4 linked regions of the Homo sapiens genome follow. The protein of the gene in region 2 purifies or fractionates together with the protein of the main gene of each other region. This does not show direct contact. Each region holds a gene or a part of one and is shown on either strand. Other genes may lie near its edges.

Region 1 (7,798 bases), on a different chromosome or scaffold from region 2:
TCAGCTCACTGCAACCTCCACCTCCCGGGTTCAAGCAATTCTCCTGCCTCAGCCTCCCAAGTAGCTGAGATTACAGGCATCTGCCACCACACTCGGCTAATTTTTTTGTATTTTTAGTAGAGATGGGGTTTCACCATGTTGGCCAGGCTGGTCTCAAACTCCTGACCTCAGGTGATCCGCCCGCCTCGGTCTCCCAAAGTGCTGGGATTACAGGCGTGAGCTACCACGCCCGGCCAATGGGCACACTTTCTTACACGTATTTCTCCTGACTCATCTTCATAAATGACAAACCCATTGTTTAACACCATGTAAAAGACAGGATAAGGTATGTTAAAAACATAGAAATACTACCATAGTTGGTGAAAGTCAACATAACCATTCCTATATTACAAAAGGAAAACAAACCTGACCCACAAAATAAACATACCTACAAACTTACAGCCATTCTTCATGATTTAAGGAATTACTAAAAGTTCTGCTTATTAGGCCGCATTCCAATGGACAAAACTACCTAGGTATGTTAAGTTTGCAGCAGAATATCCCAGTAAGTACTGCATTCAACTATCATAACCTTGCTCTAAACCAGAGCTTAATAGTTTCACGAGAATTTAAAATTTTAAGTAATGGTATTTTGCCTATAGCTGCATGATTGTGTTACCTTGCTATTCAGTAACTATTTTTCTGAATGATATCAGGAGGGTGATAAAAGGAAATAAATTATTATTAAAAAGTGTACAGGTCTGAGACATTAGAAAACTTTGATTTGTACTTTTGCTACTACCCACCACAACCACTTTCCTCTAAACCTTGTTTTCCTCCTTTTTAAAATAAAGGGCTGAATTACCTGTAAAATGTTTCTCACCTTTGAGAAGAATCATACAATTGAATGATTCTAAGTACCATAACAAATTTTATTAGGGATAAGGACCCCATTACATCTTTCTCTTCCTTGTTTCAAATGCCGCCAGAGCAACACACTATCCTAAACATCCAAGTAGGCCAATATAAGTCTATCAATACAAACCTATTCTCAGAATCCAACAGGCTAAAAGGGAATAAAAACAAGGACTGGCATATTTTTGTCATACATACTTCAGCACTTAATATCTCTACCTATACAACTTCATCCAGTCTGAGATAAAAGAGAATCTGGTCTTCTACAAATAGACATGTGTCAAATCCTTTAAAAGGTACTTCTCTATTTCAACAGAGACCAGGATTCAATAATTCCAATTTTCGGAAAACCAGACTTGCATCAAAATAAGTTCCATGTTTGTGGAAGAGAATAAATAGTAAGTGGTACTTTTAGATGAATCACTTGGTCTCCTCTTAGAACTAAGTTTAAAATCAGCCTTTAAAGCTGTTTTCCCTCTGCTGATAAAGATTTCCCTCTCCAAATAAAGATTTTTCTAGATTCTATTTCAGGAAGGAGACAAGAGAGTGGTAAAACAGCTAATAACTAGTAAAGCTAACTCTCAGTTGGTTGTCAGTATGGTATGTTTTACTGAGCCTTTGGGTTGTAAGGGCTTCTGTGAGGAATAAGGTCCTGCAACGCCGCCTGTCTGTGGACCCAGGAAAAATTATAAAGTTATTATGAAACCAGATCACTAGGACAAACCGAGAGGCCTTCCTATTCCAACTCACCACAACCAGGCCTGGCTCCAAAGCCTACCCTTTGGCTGTCCCATATTACGGGACAACAGGTCCTAGCTTAATTCTAACTCACTAAGGAAACATTCGAAGGCATGTATGTATGTACGTGTAAGGATCAAATATATTTTTCATCCACTTACAAATGTATATGGTCATTTGTAATTATTTAAAGTTACTGATAAATTTATACAAATACAGCATCAGTTCATCGAAAATCCCTGGGAGATCGAGGAAATGAAGTTACTTCAGCAGCCAGGATAGTTACGAAAAACCCTGCAGAACAGTATGGAAAAGTACAGCTTCTCACGTGTCCCTCACATACACAAACACTTAGCTCTGAGTCCATTACAACCTTACGTCCCCCCTCAAACTGCTCCCCTCCACCTCACAACTGGGAGAAGTTGATCAACCTCCTAGTTGGTCCCCAAGAGACTCATTTACCCATTATTTTACTCCTCCCGCTTTGATCCCGATCCCGCCTCAGACTAAGGTGGCCCTACTGGCCCCAGGCAGACCACCCCCCCACCCCCCGGCGTGCAAACAGGGAATCTAACCAATTCCCTCCATCCTTAACCAAGTGAGCCATCCCATGATAACAGGCTGTTCACCAACTCTGTGAACTCCGTGGTCCTCCCACCCCCACGTGTCAGCTACCCTCCCCCACATTCCCACACCTCACGATTTAGGCCGAGGGAAGAAAGGGGGCAGTCGAAAGCCTGGCCCCTAAGAGATCAACCCACTGGAATCTGTCCCACTCCAAATCCCCTCCCACCTTCGGCCCCTATCCCTTACAGTCCCTTCCTCCCTCCTTCCTTTGAAACCAGGCCCTTGCCTCAGAAACCTCCTCTTCCTCGTCGTCGTCGTCCTCTTCTTCCTCGCTGTTGTTACTGCTGGTGCCGCCGCCGCCACCTCCGCCTCCACCGCCGCCTCCACCGCCGCCGCTGTTGTCGCTGTCGCTGCTGCTTTCGCTGCTGCTGGGGGGTCGGCAAGTCCGGTTACGCTTGGCCTTGTGGTGCTGCTGCTGCGGCGGCTTCTTCTTCAGGAGCAGGTCGCAGACTCGCACCATCCCACGAGGAGACGAGGCCGAGCGAGCTCTGCTGCTGCCGCCAACGCCGCCGCCGACCTCCGCCGCCGCGGGGGGGCCCGCCACAGCCGCCACCGCCGGGGGGCTCCCTTCTCCTTCTGCAGCCGTCGCCGCCGCCACCGGAACCGTCGCCTTCTCCATCCCCAGGGAAAGAGGGAGGGCGCGGACGGGGGAGGGGCGTGGGGCTACGCTCTACCGCGACTTCGGCCGCACTGGGGCCGACACAGCAATCGGTGCCGCCTCCGCCGCCACCGCCTCGGTCACCTCTACTGCCGCCGCCGCCGCCGCCGCTCCGCCAGCTCTCACCTCGTCTCGCGATACTAAGGGCGGGGAGCCTGACGATGGGAGGGAGGGAGGGAGGGAGAGGGAGGGAGCAAGGGAAGGAGGGTGAGGCGTAACAGGGAGACCGGGTGTCGGGAGAACCAGAGGAGAGGAGACTGGAAAGAAGCGGGGAAGTGTGCCTGGGGCAGCTTCCGAAGGGGAACGGCGGGGACAGATGAGGGGGGCGCGATTGCAACCAGAGCGCCCGCGAGCTCCCGGATTTCTTCTCTTTCCTCGCTATTTCCCGCACACACAGCCCTGCAGCCCTCCCTTCTTCCTTCCTGGCTTGTGATTAGAACGCAGCCGCAGGCGGAAGTGCAGTGACGCCATCAGCCGTCGCCTGAGCCGTGGCGCGCGGGTGGCCGAAAGGCGAAAGTGAGATTTCAAGGGCCGGGTCTGGGGCCCCGCGGGCGCGCAGTGCTGCGGCGTGTGGGGAGTACGGGGAGGCTGGAGAGGAGCCGGCCCCGGGCAGTGTGAGGTGCGGAAGCGCGGTCCAGACACTTTGCTGACGGGAGGCCGGTCCGCCAGATCCGGGAGGTGGGGCCTCGTTCTGGACTGCTGTACGTAGTTTTATTCCTGGTCATTTTTTTCCACCGCCAAATCGAGAGATAGAGCTTTGGATCATGAGAGATGGCGTCGTGTTGGGAAAAGAGCCTTCTTTACCTGAGTTTAAGCTCGGCTCATAGACATCCTCTACCTGAGTTTACACGTGTGTAATATGAAGGCAGTCGATTAGGAGATGTCTAAGATCATTACTTACACCTCAAGTTTCCAAGGGGAGGAAGACACGGGAAGGATGCGTGGTCTGTGCCAGACTTTGTAGACGATTCACTGAATGACCCTGATTTAGCTCTTCCGGCCCTCTTCGATTCAGCTTGGAAGCAAGCATAAATAGTGATTGTTGTCTGTATACTTCTCTCGGAAGGAATGCTGTTATGGGAGTTGTGGGTTCATTTTTAGGTGTCTGAAGAAGTTTCAGGACTTTTGAAATGATAGTGGAGCCCATTGAACTCAGAATTATCCCTTTCTGGTCTAGTAGGAGTATAGTGGCATACGGAAAATGAAGCAAACATCAAAGACAGATGTACTGGCACAAGATTAAAAGTATGTCTCAGCTGACATAGTTGCCATTTTAAGACTGCTTAGTTTAGCTGAATATGCCTGGATTTTTTTTTTTTTTAGCATTTTTTTTCTTTTTAGCATTGGCATACCATATGAAATGTGGGCAGTTGCCAGTACTCTACAGAGTACCAAGGCAGAATTGGCAATGACTAAATCAATTCATTCAAACAAAAATTCATCATGTGCCTACTGTGCGCATAATTTGTGGAATCAAAGTCTCTTGTTTCCAGGGGCTTTACAGTGTAATAAGTGCTATAGTAAATATATATACGGAGTGGTAACCATCTGCCTATTCCTCTCCTACAGTCGTTGCTGAGTTCCAGTGTAGAACAGAGCACTGCATTGTGTATCTCACCACTACTGATTTAGATTTTATAATTTCAGCTGCATCCCTCCCTCCTACTTTGTATATTCTTCAGCATCTTTTTCTCCCTTTCCACTTGAATACTTTTCGCAATCTTTAAATCCCAGCCCATTTTATTATATGACTTTTAACTTAGACTTCACAATTTTCCAAGTGCTAGAAATTTCCTGAGATTGCCTTTTCTCCAGTATCAACGAATGAGAGACTCCCTGTTCATATATGAGATAAACTCTTCATACATATTCTAGTTCCAATACCCCTCTTTCTCATGCATTTATTATCTTTTCTGTTGTCAACCTTCTACAAATTCTGGTTCCTTAGCTAATTCTTCTGTAGCTTTCAATTATTTCCTTCACAAGCAAACTTTCTTTCTTTAAAAAGTATTCTATACTCAGGAGGCTGAAGCAGGAGAATCGCTTGAACCTGCGAGGCGGAGTTTGCAGTGAGCTGAGATCCTGCTACTGCACTCTAGCTTGGGCGACAGAGCGAGACTCCATCTCAAAAAAAAAGTGTCTACAATCAGTGTCTTTTTTGTTTTCTGAAATTGACTTGTCAGCCCTCTGCAGTCTAGTCTCTGTGTCTATCGTGCTGTGCTACCAAAAATGCTCTCTTTAAAGTAATCTCATTGTTTGGAAGAAAATGAGTTTTTTGTTCTTTAATATAATAGTGAAATGATGATCCTGTTTCACTAGTAGGATAAGGTTCAAAACTATTAAAATGGACAAGGCATGTAAAGTCACTTTCTTTTATTTTTATCTTTTTTTCCCCCCGTTAGAACCTCTGGCAGGGACTGACTAGCCCATGAAACTTATTTCTTCTTCCCGGGCACACAGCTAAACTAAATTTCACAGCTTTCCTTGTAGTTGGTTATAGTCATGTGATGAACTTCTTTTTTTGAGACAGAGTTTAGCTCTTGTTGCTCAGGCTGGAATGCAATGGCACAATCTCAGCTCACCGCAACCTCCGCCTCCCGTGTTCAAGCGATTCTCCTGCCTCAGCCTCCCAAGTAGCTGGGATTACAGGCATGTGCCATCACACCCGGCTAATTTTGTATTTTTAGTAGAGACACGGTTTCTCCATGTTGGTCAGGCTGGTCTCGAACTCCCGACCTCAGGTGATTCCCCCACCTCGGCTTTCAAAGTGCTGGGATTACGGGCGTGAGCCACCGAGCCTGGCCGTGATTAACTTCTAGCCAATTAAATATGAATGGAAATGATGTGCTCATTTTTAGGGTTAATGAAGTCCTCCTATTCTCCCTTACTCTTTCTTCGTCAACTTGATGCCTTTGAGCATGGTGACCTTCAAAACTATGTATTGGAGATGCCAAAGCCAGAAAAGAGAAGAATGAGTGGCTGAAACAGTACTTGGAAGACAGCCACCCCAATTAGAAACACCCCTTTTTGCACTTACTGTAAGAGAAAAAATTGAGATTTGAGAATTTATATGTATAGGAGCTAGAATGACCATAGCTAGTCCAGAAATTGGTACAAGAAGTGGAGTACTGCTAAAACAATAACCTAAAATATGTTACATCAGCTTATTTATGATGCAGCAGGTGGTAGAGAATGTGATTTGGAGGCTAGAAAAAGGAGGCCCATGTTTGCAGTGGCAAAGTAATTAGTAAAACTGTCACCTGAAATAATTCAAAATCAGATCACCTATCTGTTTAGATTAGCTCCAGAGGAAATGATTGAAAAGAGCAAAAGTAATACTGTGTTGAATTTTACATTTTACTTTTAGTAAGGTTTTACTAAAGAGAGAAACTCAGGAAATACTTCACAGAAGTGAGAGTGTACAGGAATATTTCTCAGGAAGGGTTGGAAAAGTTGACTTTTATAAGACTTCTAATAAAAAAAAAAAAAAAACTAGAAGAGGTCTTGAGTATAGTTACCCTTGAGATTAAGTCCTGCAACAAAGATCAGGAAAAGGGTTTGGTCTTTCCATTCAAAGTCATTATTTTAGATGGCTTCAAGATAGCTACGATAAAGGTCTAAAGGAACTGGCATAGGAGCAAGGCAGCAAAGCAGTAAATTAGGCTTGATAATTATGTAAGAAAGAACTTTGGGTGTAGTTACCAGAAGCAAATCAATCAGAAGACTACATTTTTAGAGGAATTTTATTAATCATACTAAATCTGGCTCAAATATCATTGTTCGGGTGTTAAAACAGAGGGTAACTGTCCAACCCCAAGCTTGCATAAGTAGAAAAATAGAGCATAAAACCTTAACAGCTCCCCAGTACCCACACAGGATGTGGCCATGGAGAATGATGGACAAAAAAAGAACATTTCAGAAGCTCGTATAAGGAGCTGTACTAAAGACTGGACAGGGAGTTTCTCCTGAAGACTAGAATTGGAGTTTCATCAGAACTTTCTTCAGTTTCAAGGAGATGGGCCGCAAAATGTTTATGCAGTATTTCATCATTATTATACATGAATAGTATTGCTCAGTATCACATTTTTTTTCTGAATGAGAGAATGTATTATAGTTATCTGTCCCTGAGTTACCACTATATATTGGGTTTGCAGGGATGGGGGTGACAATAAAGATAATTTGTCTTTTTAGTTCTTAGGTCACATCTGTACCTAATGAAGAGAACTGCACATTTTCTGAAAATCCTAGACTTTGAGCCTGTTCCAGTAACTGGTTAAAACTTTAGATTGTCTCCTTTGGGACAGGGTATGTTCTGTGTGTGGAAAGACAGGTAAAATACATGTTTAGTGATCAGAATAGTAGATTCTTGCAAATGCTAAATTCTTCTGGCCACACAGCTATATTTCCATGCCTCTCTTGCAATTAGGTATATGGGTTAGGTGTGCTGATTAGGTTCTAACCAGTGGAATGTGAGAAGTGATGCACTCCTATTCCAGCTCTGGCCTATGGAAACATCACATGAGCAATCCAATATATCCCACTCCCCATCAACTTGAGGCAGATGAGCAAATTTGCACTGGAAACTATGTGTTAAAGATGGCAAAGCCGCAAGATAGGACTCCTGGTTTCCTGAATCTTCACTTGGAGGATACTTGCTTCCCAATTAGAGACACTTGTGCTAGAGTTTCCTGACTCTTCACTGGGAGGATACTTGCTTGCCAATTAGGGACACTTGTGCTACAGCTCATACGCATTCTTTTGTGTTAGGCCACTGAGATTTCAGAGCGTGCCCTAATAAAGACCTGTCCCTCTTTCTCCAGATGCAATCGTTCATTACCTAATTCTAATTTTTATACCACAGGAGTAGGCCCACAAATCAGG
Region 2 (2,887 bases):
TACAGGCGGTACTGATGGCGCTTTTTTTTTTTTTTCTGTCAGGAAAACAATGTTGGCCTGTGGGCCGCCCACAACATATCCTTCCCTCACTACCTGTGTGACCAAGGTTGGCTTCTGTTGACCTTTAAAAAAGAAACCCTCAACTCAAATTGCTATAATTAGACACTTGCTTCTGTCTTGCCTCCTGTCTGCAGCTGTGAATAGTCATTTGACTGTGACTGTTGCCCTTAGCCAGCCAGATGCGCCTGTGAACCAAAGCTTCGTGCACATGTGTTCCCCTAAAGGTTGGGGAGCCTCGCTGTGTCTTGCTGTTCCCAGGCACCACCACAGCAGGTGCTGCCATACTCTTGTGGTCTCTGTGCGCCCCCCCCCCCCCCCCACCCGTCTGCCAAGCATGGGTATGAATCGTGCACACAGCCATGCTTCAAGGCCGGGGCAGGGGAGCCTGTGCTGATGCCATCCAGGGCACTGGGCTGTGCCTGGAAGGCGAGCCTTGATTGTCTGAACACATAAAGCAAACTGTCCAGAAGGGAATGGCTGATGTCTTTATTCTGAGGGTGAGAGGCTGGCACCCTGTGGACCCTTGACTGGCCAGATCCCCTCCTGGGGCCTCCCTGCAGGCTGGACCCTGCCTTTGTAACAGCTGAGCAGCACCCCAGCATGGCCCCTTCCTTGGTTGATGCCCTCTCTGCTGGGCTGAGGGCCAGGCTGGCCACAGAGGGGCCAACTCTGCCCAGTGTTCTCCACCCCATGCCCCCAGCTGGTGCAGTTCCCAGACCTCTCTCTGCCTCTCCTCAAGTTTAAGTATCAAATCGAACATTCTTTTTTAAAGTAAGCTCTGCCCTGACTCCCCCAGCCATGCAGAGAGGCTTGCAGAGCTGCCTAGGCCTAGTTTGGCCCTTTCCCTGGCACCCAGGCCCTGTGTTCAGACCCCTGGCTCTCATCACAGAAACACCCTTTGTTGAGCAGTTGTTTATTCTGGCCCTCACAGCCTTGGCTAGTCCACAAAGGCCCTGGGGATGGGCAACAGGCTACAGGAACCCACCTGTCTTCCTGGTCAGGGCCCCTGGCCCCTAGCAGCAGGCCAATCCTGGTGGGGCACAGGGTTCTGTGCCCTTTGGCTGCCTACCTCTGAATATCCTGGCCAGCAAGCCATGCCTTCCCCGCCCCTGGGGCCCTGGGAGCCCTTCAGCTCCTGTCCCCATAATGGGTCCTGGGCCTAGGATGAGGGGAAGGTCCCAGTTTCTTGTAGGGTGTTATCTGGGGGTCCTGGTGTGGGTTGAGCTGGAGGGCTGTGGGGCCCCAAGACCCCTGTGCCATTGGGGTGCTCCACCCTCTCAAACAGGATGAGCATCTCACAGTGCGGGGTCTGCGGGAACAGGTCCACTGCCACAGCCTTGACCGGCCGGAAGGGAATGCCCTTCACCCGGTTAGATGGGGCTCTGCAGAGGCTGTGGGGGGAAAAGGGGGGCGCTAAGGTCAGCCGATAGGCTAATCAGGGGCTCCTGTGGGAGCTGGGGGCTTGGTAGCAGGCCTAGCCCCCACCCAGGCCCCTGCAGACACTCACTCCACAAAGTTGCCCATGGCTGCCCGGGGGTTGCATGAGACGTACAGCAGCCGCCTGAGGTTCTTAGCTCTCCGGATGGCCAGGATCACCTTGGAATCTGAGGAGGCAAACACCAGCTGGGTCCCCACAGCCAGAGAGTGCATAACATGGTGAGCCACCCCATGTGTCCTCGTTCCCGTGCCACCTCCTTAAGCAAAAGCCACTCACGCAAGCCAGCACGGGGTGGGTCCAGGATGGCCACGAGGTGCTGGGAGGCCAGTCTGCTCACCAGGGTGGGCACCAGGTCCTCGGCCCTCCCGCAGTGGAACTCCACATTACTCAACTCTGAAGAGATGGCACCGTGGCCTGTCAGAGGGCCACATGCCCTCCCAGCAGGGCCAGCCCTGGGGAACCCCTAGCCAAAGAGCTTGCTCACTTGCTCTACCTGTCGGGCAGCCCCCAAGCCCTGGCTGTGGCTGAGGCTTGCAGCAGGGGTGGCGGCTGCCCCCATCCCCACCCCCACCCACGGCCTTGCCACTCACCATTGTCCTGGGCGTTCACCCGGGCGTCCTCCACAGCCTCTGGGCATAGCTCGACCCCAATGACCCTCTTTACCTTCTGAAACAGGAAAGCGTGGTGTCGCCCCACCCAGGGAGGGGAGTACATGGGGCCCTGTGGGCAGCAAAGAGGAGCTGGGCCTGGGGCATGATGGAGTCAGCTGTGGTGACTTTGAGCTGGGGTCAATGGGGGTCTTGGGGTGGGGAGAGGGTGCCCTCAGCAGGGCAGGAGGGCTCACCCGGGCCAGGGCCAGGCCAATGGTGCCGGTGCCACAGCACACGTCCAGCACCATGCTCCCCGCATCCAATTGGGCCCAGTCCTGGATGACTGTGTAGAGCACCTCGGCTGCGGGTGTGTTCACCTGGGGGCAGGCGGTGCCCAGGATGTCAGTGGCTCCTCTCCTGTGGTGCCACTGGTGCCCCGACGCCCACATTCCTGGTCCCTCCATCCTGCCGGGACCTCCGGCGCCCACTCCCCACCTTGGTGCCCAACGTCTTCCCTGACCCCACCTTGGACCAGCCTTGCTGATGCCCTCATCCAGCCCCTGGCTTTAAAAGCCAAGCCCGTGCTAAGCACAGCCTCCTCCTTGCCCCACTTGGTTGAGGGCTCATGAGGCCCCGCAGGCCAATAGGCTGTACCTTCCCTGCCCCAGCAAGGGGGCTTTGCCTCCCACAACTCACACCGGGGCCCCTGGAATCACCCAACTGCAGCTCCCACCCCCACACCTAGCCCTCCAGGAGGTCCTGCCAGGCCTGTCTCCAAAAACGGCCGCTCCAGGTCCCC
Region 3 (7,127 bases), on a different chromosome or scaffold from region 2:
GTGTGTGTTAGCATGTCCTTTCTTTTATGAAATTATGATAATAGTAAATACTTAAAAAAAATCATTACAGAATTAAAATTGGGGGCCGGGTGTGGTGGCTCATTCCTGTAATCCTAGCACTTTGGGAGGCCAAGGCAAGCGGATCACTGGAGGTCAGGAGTTCAAGACCAGCCTGGCCAACGTGGTGAAACCCTGTCTCTACTTAAAACACAAAATTAGCTGGGCGTGGTGGTGTGTGCCTGTAATCCCAGCTACTCAGAAGGCAGAGGAAGGAGAGTCGCTGGAACCTGGGAGGCAGAGGTTGCAGTGAGCCAAGATTGTGCCAATGCACTCCAGCCTGGGCAACAAAGCAAGACTCCATCTCAAAAAAAAAAAAAAAAAAATTAAAATTTGGCAGCTCTGAGTCTGTTCCCAAAATTTAAGTCATGATAGCCAGGTGATGGGTGCTTGAGCATGCAGCCTGCTCTTCTCTCTGCTTTTGAATATGTTTGAAACTATTCAGTTACATGTGTGTTTTTTTAATAATTTGTTATTAATTTTTGCGGGTACATAGCAGGTACATATATTTATGGGGTTTTTTTTAAAGTCTAGATGGATTGAAAAGTTTAATATTAATATGAAACATTAAACTACAAAAGGATCAGGAGGAAAGACAGAAGGTGGTGATCCCTGAAATCTAGAAGTTTTAGGGTAGAGACGTCAATCTGTGTAGAATGCAAAGCTTCTAAGTCATTCCTCTGCTTAAAGCCTGTCAGTAGCTCCCCATGGCTCTCAGGACCCAGGCTGAGCTCAGATACCTCCTCCTCCAGGAAGTCCTCCCTGACTTCAACCTTCTGGTTAGGTTAGAAGCAAACCATAAGTGGAGACCTTAGGGGCCCACTTACGTTGGGCAAGGTACTATATGATTTCATTATAATGTATATGGCCCTGTGACCCACCTCAGAGTCAGGGATGGAGGAGCCTGGTGCAGATACTGGCAAATCCTTTGATGATGAGTGAGTATAGGGATGCAAGGGTCGGTGGGGGTGTTGGGTCCTCCCTGGGCTCCCCAGCACGGAAGGACGGACGGGAGCCCAGCCCTGGCTGCCCCCTCCTGCCCATGGCCCAGCCTCCCTCTCAGGCACCAGCCAGTCCCAGGACTCTCTGAAACCTTTCCTGGGCTCCTTAGTCCAGCTCCAAGCTGCCCCTCTGGCCCTGTGCTACACCTGGTGCTCCCTGCTCTCGCTTCCAGCCATCTTCTCTAGAGTATGGCCAGCCCTTCTTCTGCCCGGAAGCTTTCCTTGGCTCCCATGGTCTGAGCATAAACCCAGGTTCCTCCGCCTGGCTTCCAAAGCCTCCATGGTCCCTTCTGCACCTGCTTCTCGAGCTGTTGCCCCAGACCTGAGATCAGCCCCACCCTGCCTTCCACGGGGTGTGCTCCTTCCACCTTGCTGCCTCGGCCTCTTTCCCTGGCATGGCCGCTCCCGCCCTGCCCAGGTGATCAGCCTGTGAATCCCCTCCCTAACCCCCACACAGAGCACACCTCCCAGGCTGGCTTCCGGCTTGACTATGTTCCTCCATGCCTCTCTGAGTAGCAGGATCAATGTGAGAAAGGTCTGCCCTGTCTGCAGCCTCCCCAGAAGCACAGTACTTTTCGTGGCGCGTACACGGGCTGGTAGATACAGTTGTCCCTCTGTATCCGTGGGAGATTGCTTCTGGGACCCCCAAGGATTCTCAAGTCCCATATATAAAATGGCTTAGTACAGTTAACAACAGAGACGTGTTCTGAGAAATGCATCGTTAGGCAATTTTGTCCTTTGCAAACATCACAGGTATACTTAGCACAAACCCAGATGGTCTAGCCTACTACACACCTGGGCTATATGGGATAGCCTATCGCTCCTAGACTACACATCCATACAGCATGTTACTGTGCTGAATACTGAAAGCAGCTGTAACACAATGGTAAATATTTGTGTATCTAAACATAGAAAAGATCCAGTACAGCTGGGCGCGGTGGCTTACGCCTGTAATCCCAGCACTTTGGGAGGCTAAGGTGGGTGGATCACCTGAGGTCAGGAGTTCAAGACCAGCCTGGTCAACATGGTGAAACCCCCATCTCTACTAAAAATACAAAAATTAGTGGGACATGGTGGCATGCACCTGTAATTACAGCTACTGGGGAGGCTGAGGCAGGGAGAATTGCTTGAACCCAGGAGGCAGAGGTTGCAGTGAGCTGAGATCGCCCCATTGTACTCCAGCCTGGGCGACAGAGCAAGACTCCATCTCAAAAAAAAAAAAAAAAAAAGTCCAGTACAACTACAATATCATAATCTTATGAGACCAGTCTTTTTTGTTTTTATTTATTTATTTATTTTTTGAGACAGAGTTTCGCTCTGTCGTCGAGTCTAGAGTTCAGTGGTGCAATCTCGGCTCACTGCAAGCTCCGCCTTCCGGGTTCACGCCATTCTCCTGCCTCAGCCTCCTGAGTAGCTGGGACTACAGGCGCCCGCCACTGCGCCCGGCTATTTTTTTTTTCTTTTTGTATTTTTAGTAGAGACGGGGTTTCACCGTGTTAGCCAGGATGGTCTCGATCTCCTGACCTCGTGATCCACCCGCCTCCGCCTCCCAAAGTGCTGGGATTACAGGCGTGACCGCGCCGTGACCTCCTGTGGATTTTCATGGGACTCTGAGAGGCGCCTCAAATCCATTTTGGAATAAGGCAGGTTATTAGCATGGGGTCTAACCGTGGGCTGTCTCGGTGTCCTGGGCTGGCTCTTGGGGCGGGGGTCCTGATGTCCGGGACCTCGGTCCTACCTGGGAGGCACAGATATGGCGGGGAACGGGAAGCCCGGGGGAGCATTTAGAAGCTCGTGTGCACAGGGAAACCCTGTCTCTACAAAAAAATTAAATTAGCGGGGCCCAGTGGTGCGTGCCTATGGTCCCAGCTACTCGGGAGGCTGAGGTGGGGGGACTGCTTGAGCCCAGGAGGTGGAGGCTGCAGTGAGTCATGATCACCCCACTGCACTCCAGCCTGGACAACAGAGCAAGACCTTGTCTCAAAAAAGACCCCAGGCCAGGCGCGGTGGCTCACCCCTATAACCCCTGCACTTTGGGAGGCTGAGGTGGGCGGATCACCTGAGGTCAGGAGTTCGAGACCAGCCTGGCCAACATGGTGAAACACCCGTCTCTTCTAAAAATACAAAAATTAGCCGGGCATGGTGGCGTGCACTTGTAATCCCAGCTACACGGGAGGCTGAGACAGAACTGCTTGAACCTGGGAGGCGGAGGTTGCAATGAGCTGAGGTCGCACCACTGCACTCCAGCCTGGGGGACAACAGGGAAACTCCGTCTCAAACAAAACCAAACCCCAAAAGTTCTCGTCTAAGTCCTTCTCCCAGGACAAGGGCACTTATCTCTTGGCGGTGCGTCACAGGTAGGGATATTCCGCGATCCCTCACCTTGACCCCGCTACGAGGACAGCCACCTCTTTCAGGTAAAGAGATCGCAATGGGAAATCATTCTGATAAAAATTCCCCTGTGGAGAATGCAGGCATCGATCCCGTTACCTCTCACATACTAAACGAACGCTCCTCCACTTAAGCTGATTCCCTAGCCCGGCCTAACCTTTGCAGCCGGCGCATATTGTGGCTCACGTCACCACCGGTGTCCCCCGCCGCCCCCGCCCCGCCCGGCCAGCTCGCCACCCTATTGGATCCCTCACGGCTCCGGCTCCACGGCCATGATGGGCTTGGCTCAATTTAGTTTTAAAAAGCATTGGCCACTCGGATTGGTGGTCCGAAGCGTCCGTCAAGCGGAGGACCTGCTGTTGCTACGGCGTAGGGGGTCCCAGCCAGGTTTCTCCCCGTTTCTGATTTGTTTCTCAGGCTCCGGGGTCCTAGAGGTTCCGGATCCGTCAAGTCCATGGGAAAAGAATGCGCCCCTCGCGCTTGACTGACGAGGCTTGCGGGCCAATCGGAATGTAGTCAAAGGAGCCGCTAGGCGATCCAATAGGTAGTAGGGGGCGGGAGAGAGGGGCCAATGAGCCTGGAGCTGGGGGCGGGGGCAGGGCCGCGATTGGCTGAGAGGCGGCCAGAGGGCGGGCGGGGGGGAACTCAAGGCCTGCTTGATACGTCCGCCATTTTGGGCGCTTCGCTGATGGTGTCGGTGAGCGCGTTTCCCGCCTGAGCGCAACTAGCGGCGGGTCGTGGGCACCTCCAGGTAATGGGGGTAGGGGAGGCGCCGGAGCAGGCCGCGGCGCGGGGTGTGCGAGGCGCGCGGGCAGGCGCGGGGCCCCTCCACCTGGCCTCAGCGGCTCAGGGAGGGAACGTCCCGGCCCCTCTCCCCTCCCCCCCCGGAATTCGTCGCTCCGCGGGCCCGGGAGGCGCGGCGCCGAGTCCTTCCCGGCCGCTCCCCGTCCGCTCCTGTTAGCCGGGGGCCCCGCCAGGACGGGCGCCGGGAGCGGGACGCGGTCGGGGCGGCGACTTTGTGCCTCGTTGACGTTCGCGGCCTGGCGCGGCGGGCGGGCGAGGCGCGCCCCTGACCCGGCTCTGGCTCCAGCCTTCCCGCCCGCCGGCCGCGGCCCGCAGTCTCGCCCCCCGCCCGGCCCGCGCCCGGTCTCCGCTCCCGCTGGGCCTCCCGGGGGCCTCGGGGAGCGCGTCAAGTTGAGGCAGCAACTCGCCGTCAAGAGTCGCGAAGACCATTGTTGGACTCTGCTCTTCGGGAAACAAGTTTTGTGGGTTTCTGTTAATTCGCCGCAGAGTCATCGGGATCCACACCAGCCAGTTCCGAGGCTCCCAGTACCCTTCCCAGTGGCTTTTTAACTCCTGTGAGGTGGCTTGTATGTAAACTGTCTCGAATGCCTCCCTGGTGTATTTGAGCCGGGGGTGGGGGGGGTGGGTGGTCCTTCTTGTGGCTTGAAGTCCCTCCCTCTTAAAGAAGCCCATTCACTGTTTACTTGGAGGTGTTTCCTGTTGAGGTCCTGCTGGCTGTGATCACAATTTAGACTTTTTAATTATAGGTGAACGGGATGGGTCTTTGGATGTACCTCCGTGCCCTGACGTTTCAACCGCGTGACTTAATGTCATTTTCCTGGTACTTCACGTTTTCTCTGTGGGGCTTTGGGTCTGTTTTGCTTTTATGGGAGGGGGTGCTTGACAGGCGTTCCCTTTCATCCTCGCAGCACTTGTTGACGGGGTGGTGTCCTTTATTCGTGGGACGTTTACTTTGATTTTGTCCTCAAGGTCATGTTGCAGATAGGCTTCAAGGGGGACAGGGACTCCAGGTTTCCAACCACCGAACTGTGCCTCAAGTAGCAAGTGTATGAGACCCAGTTATGGTGGTGGTTGGGTTTTCCTCACTGTGGAGTGGAGTCAGTGACCACTTTTTAGCTCTGTGACCTTGGGCAAGTTACCCAGCTTCTCTTTTTTTTTCTCTGTAGTATGGGAATAATAATAAGTGTCCCAGCCATAAGTTTGTCAGGATAATTGCCCTAATACATGTAAAACAGCTAGAGCTGTGCCTGGCACATACAGTCACCTCAGTGGCTGATTAGTGGTTAGGCTAGTTAATGGCTATTATTGTTTAATTTAAATTTGATTTTTAAATGTTTAGGTACTATTGGGAAGTCAGATGAGCATTTGAGTCCCGACTCTTGGTGACTGCCTTTAGAAAGCTCTGTGTAAGACTCAGTTGGGCTGAAAAAGTAAAACTATAAGTTATTTTAATTTTTTCAGGACAGGGTTTTTGACCATTCCTTAAATTAGGAACATTTACCGGAGTAATTAATGAGTAGTAGCGCCTCATAATGTTTAAAGAGATGGTTAAATACAGAAAAGCCCATCACAAGCTTAAGTCGGGCTTTGTTCCTCATGTGCTTTTGGATACTAGTTTCTGGGTGACTGCCACCCGAATCAGTAACTAGGGTTTCTTAGTGTAAGTCCTCCTTGTTACTGAAAACTGTAAGGGTGCCGTGGATTGCAGTATTCTTCAGCAAAGATAGTTTGGGAAATAGCTTTTGTCCTGGAGGGATACTTTGGAAGGTATTCTCCACTTCAGCATGTCTGGTCAGGGAGTCTAGAACATTGAACAAAATGCCTGCACTCAGTCAGAAATAAACTCACAATCCTTTACCGCTTGCCCGATACTCTCCTCCATGGTGCTCGAAACCTTGCGTGCACCTTCCCCTGGTATTGTTGTGTTTACTTGGGACTTGGTTTGCTGTATTGGAGATGTGTGTTTTGATGGACTCAGTCTTAAGTAGAGATGAGTATCTTGCTGGTGGAACTTAAGGACAGGAAGAAGATTGTTTTCGGTTTAGAACTCTAGCCTTTGTGTAAAGTATAGCAAAGCAAAGTCAACAAGCAAAAAGTTGTTAGTTTCAATGAACTAATTGAGAATTTGAGAATCAGACCATAGCTGAGCAGAAAATGAATAGAAGTAACATTGACAGGATGAGGTTGCCTAGCTTTTTAAGATAAAGCTTTGGCCGGGCGCAGTGGCTCACGCCTGTAATCCCAGCACTTTGGGAGGCCGAGGCTGGCGGATCACTTAAGGTCAGGAGTTCGAGACCAGGCCAACATGTGAAACCTTGTCTCTATTAAAAATACAAAAATTAGTCGGTCATGGTGGCGTGTGACTGTAATCCCAGTTATTTGGGAGGCTGAGGCAGGAGAATCGCTTAAACCTGGGAGGCGGAGGTTGCAGTGAGCCAAGTCCAGCCTAGGAGACAGAGCGAGACTCAGTCTCAGAAAAAAAAAAAAAAAAAAAAAAGATAGGGCTTTGCACCTATTTGGTAGATTATGTGCTTGTTACAAATAAACATCTCTTTAAAACAAGTGTCACGATCGGTATTTTATTTCTATGACAACTTCCATTGTCTAGTTCTATATTTTCAGTATTTGAGAGGCAGCCTCTGTGTGTGTTTGTGTGTGTGTGTGTTTTGGTCTAAAATTTTACAGTATTTTACTAAATAAGAGTAAATGATAGTGAAAATAAAGCTCTTCTATCTGCTCAACTAAAACTCAGCATTGACTTGGTCCTTAGAAGTTATGGTCTGCACCCCAGTATTGGCTGCTACTTTTTCTAATGTACTGAAAAAAAGATCTGGCCTCTTGGCTTTAAACAGCTTTCATATTTCTTTCCTTTCT
Region 4 (7,035 bases), on a different chromosome or scaffold from region 2:
ACCTGGGAGGCAGAGGTTGCAGTGAGCCTAGATCACACCACTGCACTCCAGCCTGGGGGACAGAGACTGTATCTCAAAAAAAAAAAAAAAAAAAAAGGTAAATGTCTTTAAGAATTCAAATAAGAATCGAAGGTCTGGCTGGGCACAGTGGATCACCCCTGTAATCCCAGCACTTTGGGAGGCTGAGGCGGGCTGATCAGCTGAGGTTGGAAGTTCAAGACCAGCCTGACCAACATGGAGAAACCCCGTTTCTACTAAAAATATAAAATTAGCTGGGCATGGTGGTACATGCCTGTAATCCCAGCTACTCGGGAGGCTGAAGCAGGAGAATCACTTGAACCCTGGAGGTGGAGGTTGCAGTGAGCCGAGATTGTGCCATTGCACTCCAGCCTGGGCAACAAGAGCAAAACTCCATGTCAAAATAAATAAATAAATAAGAATAAAAATCAAAGGTCCTGCCCCCAAGTGCTAATTTAGCCTGGGGTCTAGGGATTGCTGAGGAAGTGGGGATTCAGAATTGAGTGTTGGATCTCTGGAGAGGACAAGATACTGAAGTTAGATTTTAAGGTCAGGACTGGAGATGAAAATTGGTGAATTATAAATAGGATGTGACTATTGACCTTACTTCTTTATCATGTGGTAACTTTTCATACTCCCATTGTGGGATAATGCTGCGTTAGTTTATTTACAGTAAAGTGTCAGGTCAAACTAAGTCAGCTTACAGGACAGAAATTGTATGTAGTCAAAATTACCTGTAATCACTCTTTTTGACTAATCCTGTTATTTTATCTAGTGAGTTGACTTCATTTCCTATGACCCTCCTTCAGTTACTGTGCCACCACCACATTGTTTCTTGAATCTTTCAAGCAAGGTCCCATCTTTGCTTCTTCCAATTTGCTTTTTTGCCTGGAAGACTCTTCCTGCTGATATTTGCATATGACTCAGATGCTTTGTTTCATTAAATCTCAGTAAAATGTCACCTTTTTAAGAAGACCTTCCTTGATCACCCTGTGAAATAGCCACCCACCCCAGCCCACCCTACCCCAGCTTTACTGTTATTTTTCTTCATAGTATTTATCACTAGCTAACCTTTCATTATGTAGTTGTGTATCACTAGCTAACATTACATTATATAGTTGTGACTCCCTTGTTAGAACATATGATTCATGAGAGCAGGACCTTATCTGTTGTGTTCACCTATTTATCTCCATTGTTCAGGGCAACGACTGGCTTGTCGTAGGCCCTCAATAAGTGCATTGAAGTAAATATTATTGCATGATGAGTGGGCATTATTAGTACTTTATACATTTTTTAAAATTTATTTATTATTTATTTGTTTTTAGACAATCTCACTGTGTGGCCCAGGCTAGAGTGCAGTGGCAGAATCTTGGCTCACTGCAACCTCTACCTCCTGGGTTCAAGTGATTCTCATACCTCAGCCTCCCGAGGAGCTGCGACTACAGGCTCATGCCACCATGCCCGGCTAATTTTTGTATTTTCTGTAGAGACGGCATTTCGCTATGTTGACCAGGCTAGTGTCAAACTCCTGACGTCAAGTGATCCACGTGCCTTGGCCTCTGAAAGTGCTAGGATTATAGGCATGAGCCACCACGCCCAGCCCTATACATATTTATTTATTATTATTTTTTTGAGATGGAGTCTTGCTCTGTTACCTAGGCTGGAGTGCAGTGGCACAATCTCGGCTCACTGCAACCTCTGCCTCCTGGGTTCAAGCAATTCTCCTGCCTCAGCCTCCCAAGTAGCTGAGACTACAGGTGCACACCACCACAGCCGGCTAATTTTTGTATTTTTAGTAGAGACAGGGTTTCACCATGTTAGCCAGGCTAGTCTCAAACTCCTGACTTCAGGCTATCTGCCTGCCTTGGCCTCCCAAAGTGCTGGGATTACAGACATGAGCCACCACACCTTTATTTTAAAATAGGACCTTAAAATAGTCCCTTTAGCCATCAGGTGTTCTTTGGCCATGGTTGCTTGAAGCTTCTTTTGGTACAGGACATCCTCCCTAATGCCCCTCTAAATCCCAGCCAGCCTTTGGATTTGAGGGCATACACTTAACCTCTGCCCCCTGATTTATTTTACTCTTCTCGGTGCCCAAAGTTGTCAATGATTGTTATTTACACATTATTTCTCCTTTTTTTCTTTGACTTTTGGGAGTACAGTGAGTTTGGAGGGATTGAAATAATGGCAGGTGAAAGGGAAGAGAGATCCTACTATATTTTATGAATAAAGAATAAAAATGAGTGAAGCCTGATCCTCCAAGAGCACCAGGAGAAAATGGTATGTAAATATATAGTTAAAATAGTATGGTGTGATAAAACCATATAATAGGGCAAAATACTAAGCAAAGTAGAATCACTATCTGTAATTCACAAATGATTGAATTATCCATTCTTCAGGGGAGGATCACAAAAAGTCACAGAGATATGACCTTTGGAGTGGACTCTAAACAATGAAATCATTGTTTACTGGGTGAACAAATGATGAGAGAGTTGAAAATATATGTTGCCTCCAAGAGTCTAATATGTGTGTGGAGGGTTGGGGGCAGATTATAGAACAGGAGGTTTTAGACAATATAGATGAAACTGAAAAGATAGAAGTGTAAACCATTGGGTTGTGAGGGGCCTTTATATCCTGTGTCAGGGACGGTAGATCTTATTTGGTACACATCATAGAGCATTTCATTATGGAAATGCTATTAGTGAAGCTGTTGTATTCATTGAAGCCTCAATGTAGGGAAATGACTGTAGAGATGACAGAGGAGGCAACTGAGGGGAGTTGTAAATGATACGCATTTGATGATATTAGGTGATCAGTTGAATGTGGAGGATTTACAGATAACTCAAATGTTCCTTGCTTGGACAGCTGGAGGATTGACACCATGGACTGAATTAAGAGGTGAGTTTAGGAGAAAGATACTAAAAATTATGTTGTGTTTGCATTACCCATCCTATTTTAGTACCAAGGTAGTAGATGGTTGAATATTAGAGCTCAGAGAGTGGTCTAAACCCTAGAACTTGGGACTCATCAATGTCCTAAGCAGGGTGTACAATAAAAAACATCATTTGACAATGGGCAGGAAAACCAATGAAAAATTTGAAGGATGACTAGAATAGTCATAGAAAATGATAGTGTCCTGGATACCTAAATACCTAGTTTGGTATTTAGTTGTCTAGTAACAAATCCTGTAGAGAAGTCAAGTTGAGTGGGGACTGATCAGTGACCAGTTTCCTTGGAATTAAAAGTAACTACTAACCTTTAACAGTTTCAGTAGAATGGTGATGAGATAGAGATTATTCATTCAGGAAAGGAAAGAGAGAAATAGGTAACCTGATTGGGAAGTAATGTCAAGAAAATATGTTTCAGGATTATTGAAAATTGAGCGTTCTTTTGTTTTTTTTTTTTTTTTTGAGACAGTTTCACTCTGTCACCCAGGCTGGAGTGCAGTGGCGCAATCTCAACTCACTGCAATCTCTGCTCTCGGGTTCATGCCATTCTTCTGCTTCAGCCTCCTGAGTAGCTGGGACTACAGGTGCCCGCCACCACGCCGGGCTAATTTTTTTTTTTTGTATTTTTAGTAGAGACCCGGTTTCACCGTATTAGCCAGGATGGTCTCAATCTCCTGACTTGAGATCTGCCCGCCTCGGCCTCCTAAAGTGCTGGGATTACAGGCATGAGCCACCGCACCTGGCCAAGCGTTTGTTAACCAAGGACAAGAAGCTAGTGGAGAGGGAAGGACTGAGGGAGGGAGGTATCTGAAGAGAGGCATCAAGTGATGAGAACTGAAGAACAGTTGGACTGTTTAACTGTGCAAAAGAATAAAGACATATTTTCCCTGGGGGGGATAATTGAAGGAGATAAAAATAGATGGGTTCATAGATTATTTTGGCATTGGCGGAATGGAGGAAAGTTTTAGTATATGTTTGATGAATTTTTTTTTTTTTGCTGAAATAGATTTAGTCCTCTAGAGTGGTTGCCTTTTCAAGGTGGTTGTCATATTGAAAGTAGCACTTGTTGATAAGTGAGAGACATTTTTAAAACTATACCAGTCGTCAGAAAGATTTCCTGAGAGTATTGCTCTGCCACATACAGATTGTATGATCTTGAGTAAAAAGTCAACTGTTTGGGTCTTACAGTCTTCTCCTGGCTTTGCTTAGTTTTCTGTATTCCTTGCCCACATTAAAATGGTTATTATCCTTTGAATGATGATACTGAATGTATCATTTTAGCTTCATAATTCCGTGACCATTGCGCAATACTCAGTCTTTTTGTAGGTGTCTGTGGCCAAAATGTGAGCCATCGTTAAACCTGTAGATAGTCATTGTGGTTTCTTAATGTCTGTTAATGTTAATTGAAAAGCAATACTTAGTTAAAGGGTTAGTGCTGAATTGTTGTAACAGAAAGTACAATAAGTACTCAAAAGTAAGTAGGAATCTTAAGTGCATTTTAAATGTGCATGTATTTGGCTGGGCACAGTGGCTCATGCCTGTAGAGTCGCAGCACTTTGGGAGGCCGAGGCAGGAGGATTGCTTGAGACCAGGAGTTCAAGACCAGCTTGGGCAATGTAGTGAGACCCTGTCTCTACAAAAAATGAAAAAATTAGTCAGGTGTGGTGGTGTGCACCTGTAGTCCTAGCCACTTGGGAGGTTGAGACAGAAGAATTGATTGAGCCCAGGAGTTTGAGGTTATGGTAAGCTGTGATCACTACACTACATTCCAGCCTGGGCAACAGAGTGAGATTCTGTCCCAAAAAGGGGGGTGGGGGGGAGGAGGGGGATAGAAATATTATTTTAGTCATTGTCACTTCACCCTACACACAAATTTCACTAGTTTGTATCAGACTACATCTTGGTTTTGATGTCTGCTTTTTCATACCTGTCTAAAATATTGCAGACCTTTATTATCTTTAATAAGCTAATAGGCAAAAGTATGTTATTGTTGCTTTTTCTTTATTTTTTAGTTTAAGTATGTTTTCATAAATTTACTAGCCATTTGGATTTTTTGTGTTTCTTTATGCTTTTCTGTTTTTCTAATACATGTCTCTCCGATAAATTATTTGTAAGTATATCTTAAATTCCACGTGTCTTAGTCTGTTAGAACTGCTGTAACTACCATGAACCGGGTAGCTTATAAGCAATAGAAATCTACTCTTGGCAATTCTGGAGGCTGGGAAGTCCAAAATCAAGGTGCTGCAAGATTAGGTATCTCAGGGCCCTATTCCTAGACCACAATCTTTTAACCCCATGTGGCTGAATGAGTGAGGGGTCTCTTGGGCCTCTTTTATAAGGGCACTAATCCCATTCATGAGTGCTCTGCCCCCATCACCTAATACCCCTTCCTCCCTCCAGCAAATGTCACCTCCTAATACCATTACCATAATGGTTAAGATTTCAACATACCGTTTTGGGGAGTGGGGCACAAACAGACCATAGCACCCCCTTTGTTGTTTGCCATAGAAAAATTTTAGATTTTTATGTGGTCACCTTGTTCATCCTTTCCTCTAAGTCTTCTGCATTCCGCATTACCACACTATAAATATACTCATTCATATTTTCCTCTAGTATGTCTGTTAATTTTAAAAATTATGATAAAATACACATAAGAAAATTTACCATCTCAACCATTTTTAAGTGTACAGTTCAGTACATTCAGTTCAATACATATACATTGTCATGCAACTATTCTCCAGCACTCTTTTCATCTTGTGAAACTGAAACTCTTTATGCATTGAACAACTACTCCTCATTTCTGATTCCCCCAGCCCCCGGCAACTACCGTTTACGTTGTCTTTTTATGAATTTGACTATTCTAAGTATCTCATTAAAGTGGAATCATCACTTAGCATAACATCCCCAGGATCCATCCATGTTGTAGCATATATCAGAATTTCCTTCCTTTTTAAGACTGAATAATATTTCACTGTGTGTATATACACATTTTGTTTATCCATTCATCCATCAATGGGCACTTGGATTGCCTCCACATCTTGGCTGTTTGAATTGTATTGCAGTAAACATGAATGTGTAAATATTCTCTTTGAAACCCTGCTTTCAGTTCTTTTGGTTGTATACCCAGAAGTGGTATTGCTGGATCATATAGTAATTCTATTTTTAATTTTTTGCGGAACCTCCATACCGTTTTCCATAGGTGCTCCACCATTTTACATTTCTGCCAACAGTGTGGTGGGTTCCAGTTTCTCCACATCCTCTCCAACCTTGTTATTTCCTGTGTTTTTGATAATAGCCAACATAATGGACATGAGTTTGTATCTCACTTTGGGTTTCGTGTTGATTTTTAACTTTAAATCTCCTCTGAATTTTATTTCATTATAGGGACTAAAGAAAGGGTGATATCGTTTTCTCCTTTGTTCATTATTCACCAGTTACTAGTCAGTTTTTCATTTATTGAAAAATCCTTTTTCTTACATTAAAATGTCATCATTATAGTCTAAAATTCCCATGTTTGTTTGCATCTTTGGGTCTGTTAATCTGTTCCTCTAATCTTAATTTACCAGATTATTTTAATTTTTATAGTGTCATATATATGATGTATCCTAGATTTTGATGTGTTTTTGTTGTTGTTGTTTTCTCTTTGACCTGAAAGTTGTTTAGAAGCCATTTTTATGAGGTTTTGTCTCTTTTTAAAAAATTTCCAACTGGCAGAAATTTTGCTTGCATATTTTTGTTAACATTTACTTCTAATTTCACTGTTTTGTGACCAGAGAATGTGGTCTGTAGTATTTCTTCTTTGGGGGAAATTAACTCAGATTTTCTTTGTGGCCTAATATTTAATTTCTGTAAAAATTCAAGGGTGCTTGGAAAGAAAACATAATCTAAGTACAGATTTAATTATATGTCGAATAATAGATGAGTTTTATTATATCTTTGTTTTTCAAACTGGATCATAAACATTTATTGTGTCATAAAATCAATTTCTTGGGTCCTGACTAAATATGTATAACTACAATTTTTAATGGAGTAGAACAAATAGAAAATTATCAAAGTGTATTGCTTATAG

What was found.
Region 1: the proteins of TRMT2A (region 2) and ANKRD17 purify together in Homo sapiens (affinity purification with mass spectrometry; 2 studies listed by BioGRID and IntAct, with this or other methods). This does not show direct contact.
Region 3: the proteins of TRMT2A (region 2) and PPP6R3 purify together in Homo sapiens (affinity purification with mass spectrometry; 2 studies listed by BioGRID and IntAct, with this or other methods). This does not show direct contact.
Region 4: the proteins of TRMT2A (region 2) and SMARCAD1 purify together in Homo sapiens (affinity purification with mass spectrometry; 2 studies listed by BioGRID and IntAct, with this or other methods). This does not show direct contact.

Annotation. Positions count from the first base shown.
Region 1 is NC_000004.12:73,255,791-73,263,588, forward strand, and holds the start of ANKRD17 (ankyrin repeat domain-containing protein 17), read right to left. Parts: upstream 3,009-7,798; 5' UTR 2,879-3,008; coding exon 2,486-2,878; intron 1-2,485.
Region 2 is NC_000022.11:20,111,344-20,114,230, forward strand, and holds the end of TRMT2A (tRNA (uracil-5-)-methyltransferase homolog A), read right to left. Parts: intron 2,466-2,887; coding exon 2,343-2,465; intron 2,219-2,342; coding exon of another isoform or gene 2,165-2,218; coding exon 2,089-2,164; intron 1,892-2,088; coding exon 1,775-1,891; intron 1,665-1,774; coding exon 1,568-1,664; intron 1,474-1,567; coding exon of another isoform or gene 1,452-1,473; coding exon 1,220-1,451; 3' UTR 532-1,219; downstream 1-531. UniProt on the Homo sapiens protein: S-adenosyl-L-methionine-dependent methyltransferase that catalyzes the formation of 5-methyl-uridine in tRNAs and some mRNAs. Mainly catalyzes the methylation of uridine at position 54 (m5U54) in cytosolic tRNAs.
Region 3 is NC_000011.10:68,456,628-68,463,754, forward strand, and holds the start of PPP6R3 (serine/threonine-protein phosphatase 6 regulatory subunit 3), read left to right. Parts: upstream 1-4,124; 5' UTR 4,125-4,200; intron 4,201-4,999; exon of another isoform or gene 5,000-5,073; intron 5,074-7,127.
Region 4 is NC_000004.12:94,210,855-94,217,889, forward strand, and holds part of SMARCAD1 (SWI/SNF-related matrix-associated actin-dependent regulator of chromatin subfamily A containing DEAD/H box 1), read left to right. Parts: intron 1-2,180; exon of another isoform or gene 2,181-2,298; intron 2,299-2,883; exon of another isoform or gene 2,884-2,916; intron 2,917-7,035. UniProt on the Homo sapiens protein: DNA helicase that possesses intrinsic ATP-dependent nucleosome-remodeling activity and is both required for DNA repair and heterochromatin organization.